Linked DNA regions of Homo sapiens: region 1 is linked to region 2. Evidence: fine-mapped expression QTL. A gene starts in region 2. The other region holds a variant in brackets. All regions are shown on one strand. Distances are between the middles of the regions.

The links.
Region 1: its variant is fine-mapped to the expression of XXYLT1 in whole blood (INTERVAL, PIP above 0.99).

The regions. Positions count from the first base shown.
Region 1 is chr3:195,087,067-195,089,963 of GRCh38, forward strand. All of the region lies in intron 3 of XXYLT1 (xyloside xylosyltransferase 1), which reads right to left. Among named protein-coding and RNA genes, the nearest start is that of XXYLT1-AS1, 6.1 kb to the right of the region's middle. The variant A/G (reference allele first, on the strand shown) is at 1,165.
Region 2 is chr3:195,270,104-195,273,000 of GRCh38, forward strand. It overlaps XXYLT1 (xyloside xylosyltransferase 1), which reads right to left and starts at 1,056. Exons shown (of 4, transcript NM_152531.5): 1 at 452-1,056. The coding sequence starts at 955. RefSeq lists an enhancer at 295-1,086 and silencers at 337-516, 677-1,206, 1,457-1,686.

The DNA.
Region 1 (2,897 bases), 180 kb before region 2:
CTAAACTCAGGGCAGGCTGCGGGGAGCAGTAAGGGGGCTGGGAGGCACTGCCCGTGTGGCCCGTTGACACGCCACCGTCTCTCCAGGTGGCCTGCAGCAAACCCGCCTTTCCTGCTCCTCTGGACACAGCCGGCCTTGCCCTTGCCAGGCTGCGTGTGGCCCTGGAGCTCCTCTTCCGCCCTCTTCCCGTTTGTACCCACTCTCCAGGGAGACATTTTTCCCCTTTAAACTGGAAATGTGCTCCCTGGCTCCTCCTCAGATCCCTTGTGCTTGAGTTGCTTCTCCAGGCCTTCCAGATAAATCTCTTGAAAATCTGCTGTGCTTGGGGTGCTCCCTGTGAAAGCAGAAAAGCATCTGAGCTACCCTCCCTGTCTCTCCCCACTGCGCGCTCTATTCAGGTATCAACACAGGTATGCCTGGAGCTGGTAGAGCACAGAGACAAGGCAGTCAGGCTCCCTGCACGCAGGGCCTGCAACTTCTCAGCTCTCTCCGGATAGGGCACTGGGGCCTGGGCTTACCCAGAACAGCCAACTGGAATTTGAATGAACATAAAGAGTGGAATTTTTAACAGCCAGATCAAAGCGGGCATTAAAATTAGATGCTACTGGAGGAGCCAAGATGGCCGAATAGGAACAGCTCTGGTGTACAGCTCCCAGCGTGAGCGACGCAGAAGACGGTGATTTCTGCATTTCCATCTGAGGTACCGGGTTCATCTCACTAGGGAGTGCCAGACAGTGGGCGCAGGTCAGTGGGTGCGCGCACCGTGCGCGAGCCGAAGCAGGGCGAGGCAAAGCCTCACTTGGGAAGCGCAAGGGGTCAGGGAGTTCCCTTTCAAAGGGAGTCAAAGAAAGGGGTGACAGACGCACCTGGAAAATCGGGTCACTCCCACCTGAATACTGCGCTTTTCCAACGGGCTTAAAAAACGGCGCACCACGAGATTACATCCCGCACCTGGCTCGGAGGGTCCTACCCCACGGAGTCTCGCTGATTGCCAGCACAGCGGTCTGAGATCAAACTGCAAGGTGGCAGCGAGGCTGGGGGAGGGGCGCCCGCCATTGCCCAGGCTTGATTAGGTAAACAAAGCAGCCGGGAAGCTCGAACTGGGTGGAGCCCACCACAGCTCAAGGAGGCCTGCCTGCCTCTGTAGGCTCCACCTCTGGGGGC[A/G]GGGCACAGACAAACAAAAAGACAGCAGTAACCTCTGCAGACTTAAAGGTCCCTGTCTGACAGCTTTGAAGAGAGCAGTGGTTCTCCCAGCACGCAGCTGGAGATCTGAGAACGGGCAGACTGCCTCCTCAAGTGGGTCCCTGACCCCTGACCCCCGAGCAGCCTAACTGGGAGGCACCCCCCAGCGGGGCACCTCACAGGGCCGGGTACTCCAACAGACCTGCAGCTGAGGGTCCTGTCTGTTAGAAGGAAAACTAACAAACAGAAAGGACATCCACACCAAAAACCCATCTGTACATCACCATCATCAAAGACCAAAAGTAGATAAAACCACAAAGATGGGGAAAAAACAGAACAGAAAAACTGGAAACTCTAAAAAGCAGAGCACCTCTCCTCCTCCAAAGGAACGCAGTTCCTCACCAGCAACAGAACAAAGCTGGATGGAGAATGACTTTGACGAGCTGAGAGAAGAAGGCTTCAGACGATCAAATTACTCTGAGCTACGGGAGGACATTCAAACCAAAGGCAAAGAAGTTGAAAACTTTGAAAAAAATTTAGAAGAATATATAACTAGAATAACCAATACAGAGAAGTGCTTAAAGGAGCTGATGGAGCTGAAAACCAAGGCTCGAGAACTACGTGAAGAATGCAGAAGCCTCAGGAGCCGATGCAATCAACTGGAAGAAAGGGTATCAGCAATGGAAGATGAAATGAATGAAATGAAGCAAGAAGGGAAGTTTAGAGAAAAAACAATAAAAAGAAATGAGCAAAGCCTCCAGGAAATATGGGACTATGTGAAAAGACCAAATCTACGTCTGATTGGTGTACCTGAAAGTGATGGGGAGAATGGAACCAAGTTGGAAAACACTCTGCAGGATATTATCCAGGAGAACTTCCCCAATCTAGCAAGGCAGGCCAACGTTCAGATTCAGGAAATACAGAGAACGCCACAAAGATACTCCTCGAGAAGAGCAACTCCAAGACACATAATTGTCAGATTTACCAAAGTTGAAATGAAGGAAAAAATGTTAAGGGCAGCCAGAGAGAAAGGTCGGGTTACCCACAAAGGGAAGCCCATCAGACTAACAGTGGATCTCTCGGCAGAAACCCTACAAGCCAGAAGAGAGTGGGGGCCAATATTCAACATTCTTAAAGAAAAGGATTTTCAACGCAGAATTTCATATCCAGCCAAACTAAGCTTCATAAGTGAAGGAGAAATAAAATACTTTACAGACAAACAAATGCTGAGAGATTTTGTCACCACCAGGCCTGCCCTAAAAGAGCTCCTGAAGGAAGCGCTAAACATGGAAGGGAACAACCGGTACCAGCCGCTGCAAAATCATGCCAAAATGTAAAGACCATCGAGACTAGGAAGAAACTGCATCAACTAACGAGCACAATAACCAGCTAGCATCATAATGACAGGATCAAATTCACACATAACAATATTAACTTTAAATGTAAATGGACTAAATGCTCCAATTAAAAGACACAGACTGGCAAATTGGATAAAGAGTCAAGACCCATCAGTGTGCTGTATTCAGGAAACCCATCTCACATGCAGAGACACACATAGGCTCAAAATAAAAGGATGGAGGAAGATCTACCAAGCCAATGGAAAACAAAAAAAGGCAGGGGTTGCAATCCTAGTCTCTGATGAAACAGACTTTAAAGCAACAAAGATAAAAAGAGACAAAGAAGGCCATTACATAATGGTAAAGGGATCAATTCAA
Region 2 (2,897 bases):
AAGTGTCACTGCAACTTCAACACTTCCAGAGGCCTCACCAAGGCCCTCTCCAGTTGCTCAGGATGACTACTGGTGACCAGTCCCATCCTCAGAAGTCAAAAACTGAGGAACATAAACAGAGGTGCAGACTCTGAAGGCAGTGCTGAACCCTGCAACGTTAGCAAAATGGGGGCGCGCGGACTCTCCTGGGGGCTGCGCTTAACTGGGGGAGAGGAAAACGAGGCGGTCATTAAAAACGCAGCTCCACTCCTCAGCACCAGCTGAGGGCGTCTGGCTCCCGGACACGCCCCCGAACGAGCCCTCCCGCAGGTTGTGAACACTACATTGCAAGCGGGCAGCTCAGGGAAGATCCTACCCGCTAGTTCCCCGGATCCCCTCCGGGAGCGCAAACTGACCTCGCCTAGGATGGGGTGGGCCACCCACCGGGAGCCCCCAGCCGCGGCCCGCTCACCTTGCACTTGAAGCCAGCGGCGGGCGGCAGGAGCTCCCGCAGCAGGCCCTTGGCCACCTCGCGGCTGGCCTCCTCGCTCACGAAGTGAAGGTTAAGCACCTCGTGCGCCTCGAACTTGGCGAGGCGCAGCAGTGAGCGCAGCGCGACGCGGGCCTTGGCCTGCAGCGCGGCATTGTGCTCCGCCTTGGTGAACATCATCAGCAGGTGGTAGTCCACCGGCCCGGCACCGCCGCCCTCCAAGCTCTTGGCCTTCGCGCCGGGGGCTGGCGCCACGGAGCCCCGCGCTAGCTCCAGCGCGGGCGGCGAGGGCGCGGCGGGAGCCCCGGCGCGGGCCTCCTTCAGCCTCTTGGTGGCGCTGGAGAAGGTCTCCCGGCCTGAGCCGAGGTAGTAGAAGGCGCAGACGGCCAGCGCCGCGGCCAGCAGCAGGGCGCAGTAGTGGGAGCGCACAGCGCCCAGGCGCGCCATGGCCCGAGCGCATGGGAGCCCGCCTCGGAGGAGGCCCATGCGCTACGAGACCGCGGCGCCAGCGGTGCCAGCAACGCGGGAGAGCCCTCGGGTACCCGGACGCCGGCGGCCACTTAGCCCCGGCGCCAGGCGGCGGCCATGAAAGGGGCGGGGCCGCGCCGCCTGGAGCCAATCGCGGGCGCCGGTGCGCGGAGGGGCGGGGCCGGGCGTGCCGAAACCGCTGGGTCCTAGGTTCCAAGGGTATTAGAGGAGGGGTTAGGGTGGGATCCGGCGCCCGGCGTTGGGAGGGGGGGATTCCGGACTCCAGCGTGCTGAGGGCTGGCCCGCTGTCCCGGCTGAGAAATGGCGCCCTACGCGGCGAGCCCCAGAGGATATCCAAGCTGAGTGTTGAAGGGAATGGAGGCGCCCGAACAGAGGAACTTAGGTTAGCCAAAAGCGAAGCTGGAGGCACCAAGAGGTAAAACTTTAATCTCTGCACCTTTTTTCCCTCAATTTCTTGGAGGCTTTAAGCCGTCTCGGCCTCTCCCTGCACACGAGCTGCAGCTAGGCAATTTAAACCGGCAGCTCCTCCCTTTTCCCCCGCCCTGGGAGGAAATGGCCCGGGCCGCACGTCGCGCCGGAGGCCGAGCGGAGGGAGGCTGGAGGATGTGGCCAGCAGGGGGCCCCCGCCGCCCGCACGAACCTGCGAGGCTGCTCCCCGAGCCCCAGCACCGCAAAGCCCTGGAGGGCGACATTCATCCACTTTTGTTTTATAAACAGACTTTTAACACTTTATCAAGAGCCTCCTTGAGGGTACCAGGGAGTTTTGCACGCCGAGGTCACGTGCCCAAAGTCACACAGCTAGCCAGTAGCAATTTTGACCCTAGGCAGTTGCACACTGCTAACTAGATAAAAACGTACTAACTTCAGTCTTCTAAGAATTGAGGCTATACCAGTAGTTTTTAAGTAAACACGTGCAAGTGCTGTGCATGCTGTCTAAATAGACAAAGAACTTGAGTAAGTACAGTAACCCTTCAGTTCTTTGGCCAAGTTCTCTGATTTCTGACCAGAGATTAGGTAAACGGTTTTTCCTGTTATTTCCACATTGTAAGGTTGCATGGATTATCCAACCTCTCTGCTTCAGACCTTGGCTTACATGTCACTACCTACACAAATGATCTCTAAATACCTCCTATCCAGTGTCTGGGCTAAGTGCCATCCTCAATAATTCTGTGAGGGCCACCTAAATATATGTACTACCCTAGTCTCATCTTTCTTCATTGCAAGAACACGTGACTCCAAGAGAACAGAATATACATTTGTTTTTTATTAACCACAATATACCCAGTACCTAACACGGTGCCTACCACATTGGATGAGTCTCAAAAATATACTCAACCATTGAAACAGCATTTTTATTTCTAGAAAATCTTCCTAATAATTTAAGAATGTTCAAAATATTTAACCATAAGAATAAAGCAAGGCCAAGCATGGTGGCTTAGGCCGGGAATGGTGGCTCACGCCTGTAATCCTAGCACTTTGGGAGGCCGAGGAGGGCAGATCACCTTAGGCCAGGAGTTCGAGACCAGCCTGCCCAACATGGCGAAACCCCGTCTCTACTAAAAATACAAAAAATTAGCCAGACATGGTGGCGGGCGCCTGTAATCCCAGCTACTCAGGAGGCTGAGGCAGAAGAATCGCTTGAACCTGGGAGGTGGAGGTTGCAGTGAGCCGAGATCATAACACTGCACTCCAGCCTGGGCGACAAGAGCAAAACTCTGTCTCAAAAAAAAAAAAAAAGTAGGCAGTGTGGTGGCGGACACCTGCAATTCCAGCTACTCGAGAGGCTGAGGCAAGAGAATCGCTTGAACCTAGGAGGCAGAGGATGCAGTGAGCCGAGATCATAACACTGCACTCCAGCCTGGGCGACAAGAGCAAAACCCTGTCTCAAAAAAAAAAAAAAAGTAGGCAGTGTGGTGGCGGACACCTGCAATTCCAGCTA